3 linked regions of the Homo sapiens genome follow. The protein of the gene in region 3 purifies or fractionates together with the protein of the main gene of each other region. This does not show direct contact. Each region holds a gene or a part of one and is shown on either strand. Other genes may lie near its edges. The genes, in order: SNAP29, CCP110 and JADE2.

Evidence for each region.
Region 1: the proteins of JADE2 (region 3) and SNAP29 purify together in Homo sapiens (affinity purification with mass spectrometry, with the first as the bait; one large-scale study listed by BioGRID). This does not show direct contact.
Region 2: the proteins of JADE2 (region 3) and CCP110 purify together in Homo sapiens (affinity purification with mass spectrometry, with the first as the bait; one large-scale study listed by BioGRID). This does not show direct contact.

Annotation. Positions count from the first base shown.
Region 1 is NC_000022.11:20,869,007-20,872,660, forward strand, and holds part of SNAP29 (synaptosomal-associated protein 29), read left to right. Parts: intron 1-1,330; coding exon 1,331-1,527; intron 1,528-3,654. UniProt on the Homo sapiens protein: SNAREs, soluble N-ethylmaleimide-sensitive factor-attachment protein receptors, are essential proteins for fusion of cellular membranes.
Region 2 is NC_000016.10:19,547,937-19,551,073, forward strand, and holds part of CCP110 (centriolar coiled-coil protein of 110 kDa), read left to right. Parts: intron 1-18; coding exon 19-78; intron 79-578; coding exon of another isoform or gene 579-664; intron 665-3,137.
Region 3 is NC_000005.10:134,528,547-134,532,200, forward strand, and holds part of JADE2 (E3 ubiquitin-protein ligase Jade-2), read left to right. Parts: intron 1-3,337; exon of another isoform or gene 3,338-3,654. UniProt on the Homo sapiens protein: Scaffold subunit of some HBO1 complexes, which have a histone H4 acetyltransferase activity. Acts as an E3 ubiquitin-protein ligase mediating the ubiquitination and subsequent proteasomal degradation of target protein histone demethylase KDM1A.

The sequences.
Region 1 (3,654 bases), on a different chromosome or scaffold from region 3:
TGGCTCATGCCTGTAATCCCAGCACTTTGGGAGGCCGAGGCGGGTGGTTCGAGACCAGCCGGGCCAACATGGTGAAACCCCGTCTCTACCAAAAATACAAAAAACTAGCCAGGCATGGTGGCAGGCGCCTGGAATCCCAGCTACTCAGGAGACTGAGGCAGGAGAATCGCTTGAACACAGGAGGCAGAAGTTGCAGTGAGCTAATATCACGCCACTGCACTCCAGCCTGGGTGACAGAGCAAGACTCCATCTCAAAACAGAAAAGGAGGTGGAGAAGAGGGGTAGTGGTTGGAAGAAGGAATTCTCCTTTAGGGAAGATGTCTGGGAAGGCCTCTCTGAGAGAGTGGCCTTTGAAAGGAGACCCTAATTGGATGAGGGATGAGAGGCTGAGCCATGTAAGTATCTGGATGGAAAACATTACAGGCGGAGACAGTGGTGTGTGCAAAGGCCCTGGGACAGGGTCACCCGTGTTAACAGGTTTTAAAGCTGGAATTGTGGATGGGCTAGAGTCAGACACTAATAGGGCCCAGAGGGGACACTGGTCCTTGAAATAGAATTTGAGGATTTGACCATGGCCAGGAGGCTCAGGTGGCCCAGTGGGAACTCCTTAAATGGGAACTTCCTAAAGGAAGAATATAAGAACCAAAGTCCAGGGGGCAGTGCCAGGCCCAACCTGTGAGGGTTCCCAGAGTTGGAGGGCTAGAGAGAATCTGCTTCCAGTTCAGGCCATAGACTCTGAACCTCACAGGCACATTGCCATCCATCTCCCCTCACCCCCAACCGAGACGGAGTCTTGCTCTGTCGCCCAGGCTGGAGTACATTGGCACCATCTTGGCTCACTGCAACCTCTGCCTTCAGGGTTGAAGCAATTCTCCTGCCTCAGCCCCCCGAGTAGCTGGGATTACAGGTGCCCGCCACAACACCTGGCTACTTTTTGTATTTTTAGTAGAGAGGGGGTTTCACCATGTTGGCCAGGCTGGTCTTGAACTCCTGACCTCATGATCTGCCCGCCTCAGCCTCCCAAAATGCTGGGATTACGGGTGTGAATCACTGCGCCACCCTCTGCCATCCATCTTAACATGGCGCCATGAGCCAGCCTCTCAGGAAAAGGGTCTCATGAACAAATGAGGAAAGCAAGTAGAGGTAGGGCAGGGAGGGAGAGGCAAAGGAATGTGTTGTTGGAAAGGGTAGTGTGCCCCTCACAGATGACAGTACCCGTCTCCAGATGTGCCCACTGAGAGTTTATGAAGGGGCTGCTCCATGTGGTCCTTGACTGCCCTGGGGGAGAGTCACAGAAAGCTATAATGCCACTGCCTCTCGGTTTCCCCAGGAGCTCGCCCGTCAGCGAGGAGTCCTGGAGCGCACAGAGAAGATGGTGGACAAGATGGACCAAGATTTGAAGATCAGCCAGAAACACATCAATAGCATTAAGAGCGTGTTTGGGGGGCTGGTCAATTACTTCAAATCCAAACCAGTAGAGACCCCACCTGAACAGAATGGCACCCTCACCTCCCAGCCCAACAACAGGTGAGTGCATCTTCTACCATCTGGGTATAAAGGAGCAGAAGTGGGGATTAGTGCAAATGACCAAGACTTTCAGTCCACGTCAGTGCCATGAAGGGATCCAACAACCCTTTAAGTTACTCATCAGGGGATATTTGTCCTCAAACATTGTGAAACCAGGAACTGTTCTTCCCTGATCCCATGTTCACTTGATTGACATCTAGTCTGTCAATAGCTTCTCCAATAATTGTGACCCCACTACTTTGAAAGAGAGGGTGTTCACCTCAGCGTAATCTGTACAAATGTGACTCACTTCACATAATTTTTGCTTTAAAAAATCTTTAGGGCTGGGTGCAGTGGCTCACACCTGTAATCCCGACACTTCAGGATGCCAAGGTGGGTAGATTGCTTAAGCCCAGGAGCTCGAGACCAGCCTGGGCAACATAGTGGGAACCCAGTCTTTACAAAAATTACCCAGGCATTGTGGTGCACACCTGTAGTCCCAGCTCCTCAGGAGGCTGAGGTAAGAGGATCTCATGAGGCCTGGAGATCAAGGCTGCAGTGAGCTGTAATGGTGCACTCCAACCTGGGCTACAGAGGGAGGCCCTGTCTCAAGAAAAAAAAAAAAAAAAGTCTTTATGTCTAAATTTGTCATATCTAATCCAATTCGCCCATTGATTTTTATTTGAAAATTATAAGGCTGGGCTCAGTGGCTTATCTGTAAAATCCCATGCTTTCAGAGGCTAAGGTAGGAGGATTGTTTGAGACCAGCCTAGACAACATAGCAAAGACCCGTCTCTATAAAAACTAAAAAAAAAAAAAAATTAGCCAGACATGATGGCACGTGCCTATATTCCTAGCTACAGGGGAGACTGAGGTGGAAGGATTGCTTTAGCCCAGGTGTTAGAGACTAGAGTTAAGCTATGATGGTGCCACTGCACTACAGCATCAGTGACAGAGTCTCCCTGTCTCTAAAAAAAAAAAAAAAAAAAAAAAGATTTAAAGCTAAATAATTAAAATCAAAAAAATAAAGTTAGAAGTTGCTTTCCTCAGGTTTTGGCTCGAAATATAAAATCATACATGAGACTGGGGGCCAGGCACGGTGGCTCACGCCTATAATCCTAGCACTTGGGGAGGCCGAGGCGGGTGGATCACCAAGTCAGGAAATCAAGACCATCCTGGCTAACATGGTGAAACCCTGTCTCTATTAAAAATACAAAAAATTAGCTGGGCGTGATGGCGGGCGCCCGTAGTCCCAGCTACTCGGGAGGCTGAGGCAGGAGAATGGTGTGAACCCGGGAGGTGGAGCTTGCAGTGAGCTGAGATCATGCCACTGCACTGCAGCCTGGGCGACAGAGCAAGACTCCGTCTCAAAAAAAAAAAAATTCATGAGATTTTGGTAGACTTCAGTGTTACATGTTCAAGGATAAAGGAATGGAGTTTCTGCTGAAGTAGATTACTATTGTTTGTATTTCAGATCACTGTGTCTGTTTTTATTACAAAAACAACATGGCCACATTACAGACAATCTATACTTTACCTACCGCAACACAAAAACAGAAAATTTCATTTTCCCCTTATTCAGTATTTTCATAGTTGTAACCATAGTATTCTTTTGGTTTGATAGCCTTTTTCTTCCATTTAACCCAGAAAAACTGCTTGATATTATGTGATAACTCAGGTTCCATAACCATCTCTCTCTCTCTCTTTTATTTATTTATTTTTTATTTTATTTATTTATTTTTTTTGAGATGGAGTTTCACCCTTGTTGCCCAGGCTGGAGTGCAAAGACGTGATCTCAGCTCACTGCAACCTCTGCCTTCCAGGTTAAAGCGATTCTCCTGCCTCAGCCTCCCAAGTAGCTGGGATCACAGGTGCCCACACCATGCCTGGCTAATTCTTTTTTTTTGAGACGGAGTCTCACTCTGTCACCCAGGCTGGAGTGCAGTGGTGCGATCTCGGCTCACTGCAAGCTCCGCCTCCCGGGTTCATGCCGTTCTCCTGCCTCAGCCTCCCGAGTAGCTGGGACTACAGGCGCCTGCCACCATGCCTGGCTAATTTTTTGTATTTTTAGTAGAGACGGGGTTTCACCGTGTTAGCCAGGATGGTCTCGACCTCCTGACTTCGTGATCCATCCGCCTCCGCCTTCCA
Region 2 (3,137 bases), on a different chromosome or scaffold from region 3:
CATTTAATTTGTCAACAGAGTCCTTCAGCCAAACCAAGGACAGAATGCACCTGTTCATAGGCTACTTAGTAGACAAGGGTAAGAATGCCACACACGGGTATTGAAAACTACGGAAACCAAGATTAGATTTGAGAGGGAAAAATAAATCTAGTGTTCTTTATGTAAAGGATAATGGTTTTTCAATGGGATTTTTTTTCTTTATAGCATTGGGAAAGATATTTTAAAGTTTTGTCTTCAAATGTAACCCTCTTGGTGTACTGTTGTGTATTCTAATTACTGTCTTAAGTTGGGATGTTTTTACTTTTCATTTCATACCATTTTACTCATAAAGTATTTTAAATATCCATATAGTAAATTCAGCATCACCGAAGTGATTCTCCAACAGAGTATGACTCGTGCTTATAGTCTCCTGCTGAAGCCAGAGTTTAGCTTTCCTTACTGTGCGCATGCATGAGACTTCAGTTCTTTTCAAGCTTATTTGTGCTTTGGACAGTTGATGCAATGTGATTGCTTTCTTTGAATTTTGAACATTTAGACCTTAATGCCAGTGACTTATTAATTTTTTTATATTCAATTAGAACCCCTAAGACATCAGTGAAGGGGGTTGTGCAAAATAGACAGAAGCCTTCACAGAGCAGAGTGCCTAACAGAGTGCCTGTTTCAGGTTTGTAGAAAATAAATTCCTGAAGCCCATTCAATAGAAGGAAGTGCACAAGCTGCCCCATAACTCAGGCCATAGAAGTGGAATAGATTGTCTTTCCTTGCCACCATAATTTTGGCATATTCACAGTCATCTTATTAGTGTTCTTTGGTCTTAGCATTGTATGGCAGTCAGGAAGTCTTAGTAAAAGTGTGATTCCAGTCTTCATTTCTATAATATTTCTGTGGAAAGCACCTTGTATTTTTCATTCTGAAAAAATTGTAGAATTTGCCATGCTTAATTCAGAAAACCTTTTTATTTAATGAATAAAAGATAACGATCATCTCTGGTGCTAAGTCTGTGCATTGTCTGTTCAGCTTGGGGAAGTGTATCTGCACATAAGGGGATAAACTTTCTCCCTCAGACTATAAGATCACATGTGAATATGCCAGTGGGAGGAGGGCTTCATATTTTGCTCAGTCCAAAGCTTGAGCTAAATCTCTCCTTATGTTCATTATTTGAGGATTAAGAGCTAAACTAAAAACTGTATTTTAAAATTCTGTTTATGGTGGCAAGAAGACAAACTCATTCTTGAGCAAATTCAAAGCTCTTAACCAAATGCTTTAATATTTTTTAGGTATCTTTGTTAAGACACTTTGATTAAGCTCACTTAAAAATTATGTGATCCATTTAAAAATACTTTCCAAATGTTGTGCTTTAACTATACTGCTTTCTAGACATTTACAACAAACCTAAATTAATCACCAGGCATTGAAGATTAAACCTTTAATCAATTTTAATCTTTCCATTAATATACAATTAGGCAAATTTTAGAGCTTTATTACTAAGTGATTTCCTTCAAATTAGGAGGGAACAAGCTATTGGTCGTAACTTTGAAATGATGGCTGACCTTTTGTATGTATGTAGTGAAGGTAATTCATAGTGTCACACATATATAGGATAATTTAAAAGATCATCTTTGGAAATCATTGTGAGTGACAGTTAATGGAATTGTCTTAAAGGATTACATAGCTGAAGATACTGTTTACTCCAGAGGCAGTCAGAATAAGCTAGTTTGAAAGATAACCATTTGAAAGGACTCAGACCAAACACCAAACCTGTGGAATTTTAAGACATTTTCTGTTTTTCTCATGTTAGTATTCTATATTGCACTGAAACTTAGCAAGTTGGAAAATCATTGAGGAATTAGTATTGTTTTGCCTGATACCAATTTGCCACAGTGACTACTCTCCATGTTCTTTTCTCATGCATTTCATCTCCACTATTTGTCACTTGTGAACTTATAAGCAAAATAGCAAGTACTGTTTTTATTCAGCAATACTCAACAGTATAAAGGATGTATAGTCAGTCACTGAAGTTAGTAACATACAATGAAGTTCATTATTTTGAACTATTGAGGTTAAATTGCATTGCAACATACTTATTAATACAAATGAACTTAACCCTTGAATTAATATGTATCTAAACAAGTACAAAAGTCTGTTGCTGTTGTTTTCTAAAGATTTACTTATACATGAGTGCATATTTAGACAATTGAAAGAAACTAAATAATTGTGTTCTTTTTTTTTTTTTGAGACAGAGTCTTGTTCTGTTGCCCAGGCTGGAGTGCATTGGTGTGATCTTGGCTCACTGCAATCTCCACCTCCTGGGTTCAAGCCATTCTTCTGCCTGAGCCTCCCAAGTAGCTGGAATTACAGGCGCGTGCCACCATGCCCAGCTAATTTATTGTATTTTTAGTAGAGATGGGGTTTTACCATATTGGCCAGGCTAGTCTCGAACGCCTGACCTCAGGTGATCCGCCCACCTCGGCTTCCCAGAGCTCTGGGATTACAGGTGTAAGCCACCGCGTCCAGCCAGAATTGTATTCTTTTATATAAACTGAGAGTTTGGGATATTGGCTGGTTAAAATGCTAACTATGAATCTGAACACAGGAACTCACTGTCGCTCTTGAAAAGATTACTCTTTCCTGCTTAGAGTTTTAATGGTCTGAATTATGTTTTAAACAAATTTGAAATTATGTTCTGATTTGCTCTAAATGGAGGCAAATCCTTTGTTAAGCAATTTATAGAAAACTAACTTTTCTTATGATAGAATATCATACTCTTAGACTGAAGTAGAATTCTAAAATGTTAAAGTATGCTGCAAAGCATTTAGTTATTTATAGTTTTACAAACCTAAATTGCAATCTCTGATGTTATCGTAAGTGATCTTTGACTTACGGTTTTAAAACACATTTCTTCATTTGATGTTTTGTGCTTGACTAGAGTTTATATAGTGAAATTCAGAAACCACTAATCAAAGCAGAGTAGGAGGTGGTCATGCAAAATGGTTAAGTAAAATAACACATCAGGTGGACTTGGGTTATCAGAGTTCTTCCTTCTAGCTCTGTTCCTTAGGCAACTGCTCTCCTATGCCTCAGTTTTATTATCCTTAAAATGGTCATAACAATTTCTACCTCAGGATGATTCATATAAG
Region 3 (3,654 bases):
CTGCAAAAACAGGCTTTGATCCGAAGTGGGCGAATAATTTATTGAGCAAGTTTGCATGGTAGAGGAAGGGATGTTTGTTTGATCTGGAGCCCTCTAGGTTGCCCCAAGTGCTGTTGGCTGTTGTTTTGAGTGGAAAAGCATTTGGTTCTGCAGCAAATGCCTCACAGAGGGAAGTCCTCGCCCCAGGCAGCAGGACTTGCAGTGAATATTGGTTTTGAAATTGTTTGGCCAAGGGTCCCCCCATCACTTTTGGAGATGAAGTGTTTAAGGATAGAGTTGTTTGGGCTCAGGATGCAGCAAATGTTTCCAGAATGTTTTCCCGTCCAAAATGCTTTTCCTTTCCCTAAATTGCCTGGCTAAAGGGCCAGTAACAGTGGTCCAAGAGGTTGTCAGAAATCTCCACTTAGCTTTCATGGACTGGTGAGGTGGGACTGCCAGTCCCCAGGTCCTAGATGCACCACGGAGTATTGACACTGTATAGGCCCTGGACACTGACCCCCACATCCTTGAGGTTGGGAGGCAGGGTGTTCTGGCTCTAACCTAGTGTTCCTCTTAACAGGAAGGCAGTTGTCTTATGCTCATGACACAGGTAAGAGGCTTCTAGTCCAAATTCTTCATGGCACATGCAGCAGGCTTTTTGGGACCTCACAGTTCTCCCTTTAGGTTCTCTGATGGGGAGAACAGGTCAGAGTTGGGGAGCAGGATACCCCTGGCTTGCCCTGTCCTCCAGATAGGACCCTTACCATGTGGCTCAAAAGCTTACAATTGTAGGTCTGCTCAAAGCTCCTTTCAGACAGCCCATAGGAATCTAGAATACCCATACCCTGGAACTTGTAGGCCTGTACACTTCAGCCCACTGGAGATGGGGTACACCTTCTGGAGTCAGACAGCCTAGGTTTGAATCCTGGCTGTGCAGTTACCAACTGTCATAATGGCTCTATACCTCAGTTCCTTCTGTTACAAGGAGCACTTTCTGCAAATGGGATTAATAACAGTACCTATCTCATAGTGGATGTATAGAATAAGTGATTACCTAAAAAAGACTAAGCCCAAAGCAGGCATGTGATAAGCACGTGATTAGTATTAGTCATCCTTATTATACCTGGGGAGGGTCCCCGATGCAGCTTGGACCTTTGATCTCTCACCTTTAGGCTAGGCCAGAGAGCCAGCTCGCTTCTCTGCAGAAGGGATCAGAAGGATCCTGCAGGTGCCAATAGGCAGCCGATATGGGAGCGAGTAGACGGAGCTCTGCCCTCTCTGGGGCAAAGAGTAGGGTGAGAAGGTTCTGAAGAACAAAGTAGACAGAGCCTTTTCATTCTCCCACCATCCCCTTGGTACGTCCCCAGAACTGGTCTGGAGGGTGGGTGTGGCAGCGTCTTCAAGGGGAGCTGAGTCCCCTCTGGGACACTTGAAGTTGCAGACAGGCAATGGCTGGTGTTGCAGGAGGGTTCAGGCTCCTCTAGACTTGGAGAAGCAGGTCCAGGAAGCCGACTGGAGGATCCCAGGCAGCAGCCCTCTACTCTGTATACAAAATCATTTTTGTAACTGCAATTACTGTCCCTGAGAAGGCATTAAAGTTAATGAGAGATAGGAAAGAGTGGGGCTGTGACCCCGGTTTAAAGCGGTTTAAGAGTGTGCAGCTCTTGTTTTCTGAATGTCTGGCCTTCCCAACACAAGGAGGCTCTGAGGACAGGTTTTCCAGCCGAAATATCATTAAATTGTATTAGCATCTTATTACACACACGCCTTAGCGGTCTGCCTCAGACAGGGAGAGTTTTTGTTTCTCTTTGAAAGATTGTGTCTGGAATGGTAAATTGCCTGCTTGAAAGCCCTTTTTTCCCCTTTTTTTAAAGAAGAGGACGAAATCCTGCTGTGTGGTGGCAGGCAGGCCAGGCCTAGTGGCCCCTGGAGAGGAGAGGCTGGAGGCCAGGTTGGGGTGTTTTAACTGCCCAGGGAGTGGCTGCAGTGGCAGGCCTGAAAGGCCCACTGTTCCCAGGGTCAGCTGGAAGGGCGTTAATGGAGGCCCAGGGTGTTTATTTGAGTTTATTTGCAGAGAGGTCTTTAAAGGGGGCTGGCATTGGGCATTGGTGTTTTAAGTCCAGACCTGAGGCCCTCACTAAGGCCAACCACTAGTGCTGCCAAGAAAACATCTGCCACCAAATTGCTGCCCTATTACTGAGTTGACATTGATCATTAGCCAGGAGCCCAACCAAATAAAGCCTCCTGGAAAATGTGTGAGGTTAAGACGGGGAAGGCAGGCTGTGAAAACAAGGGCGAAATCTTGGGCCAGGGTGTTTGTTCCTGCAAGCCACAGGCAGGCCAGCTGGACTGTGTGGTCCCGACACTTCTTGGGGGAGGGAGCGAGAGCACACTCAGCACTCCCTAGTATGTCACTGGGGTTCTGGCTGGAGTCTAAATGGAATGCTCCTTACTCTTCATGGAATATACATTCCCAAGGAGAACGACATGCAACAAGTAGCTCAACAAGCACAGCTGGGATGGGTATTCCGTGGACACTGGGTGGTGAATTTCTTCAGATAGTGTGATGAGCATAGACTGACATGGGCCACACTGAAGCTTAAACCTGAAGGTTGAAAAGTCAGACATGCATAGACCACATAGAAGAATATTCCAAACAGAGTGGAGTACAGCGTGTGCACAGGGCTCGAAGTATGGAATATTTGGCTTGTTCAAAGGAATGAAAGGAGCCCAGCATGGCTAGAAGGTGGTGAGGAAGGGGATAGTGGTCAGTATGAAGCTGTCCAGGTGGCAGGGGCCAGATTGTGTAGGGTCTTGTGGTCAGGAGCTTAGGCTTTGTCTTTTGATCTATGAAGCCTTTGAAAGATTTTCTTAGGGGCATGATATGATCTGATTTATGCCTTTTAAAATTTTTATTTTGTTCTAATTTTTTTTAGAGATGGGGTCTTGCTGTGTTGCCCGGGCTTGCCTTGAACTCCTGGGCCCAAGTGATCCTCCTGCCTCTACCTCCCAAGTAGCTGGAACTACAGGTGCATATCACCATGTCCAGCTTCTGATTTATACCTTTTTTTTTTTGAGACAGAGTCCCACTCTGTTGTCCAGGCTGGAGGGCAATGGCACAATCTCGGCTCACTGCAACCTCTGTCTCCCAGGTTCAAGCAATTCTCTTGCCTCAGCCTCCAGAGTAGCTGAGATTACAGGCTTCCGCCACTAAGCCTGGCTAATTTTTGTATTTTTAGTAGAGACGGGGTTTCACCACATTAGCCAGGCTGGTCTCGAATTCCTGACCTCTCAAGTGATCCACCCACTTTGGTCTCCCAAAGTGCTGGGAATATAAGGATGAGCCACCGTGCCTGGCTTTTTTTTTTTTTTTTTTTTTTTTTTTTTTGAGACAGGGTGTCACTCTGTCACCCAGGCTGGAGTGCAGTAGCATAATCACAGCTCACTGCAACCTCAACCTCCTGGCCTCCCACTTCAGCCCCTTCAGCAGCTGGGACCACAGGCACACGCCACCATGCCCAGCTAACTTTTGTATTTTTCATAGAGTCGGGGATTTGCCATGTTGCCCAGACTGATCTTGAACTCCTAAGCTCAAGTGAGCCACCTGCTTTGGCCTCCATAAGTGCTGGGATTACAGGTGTGAGTCACCGCACCCCGACTGATTTATGCTTTTTA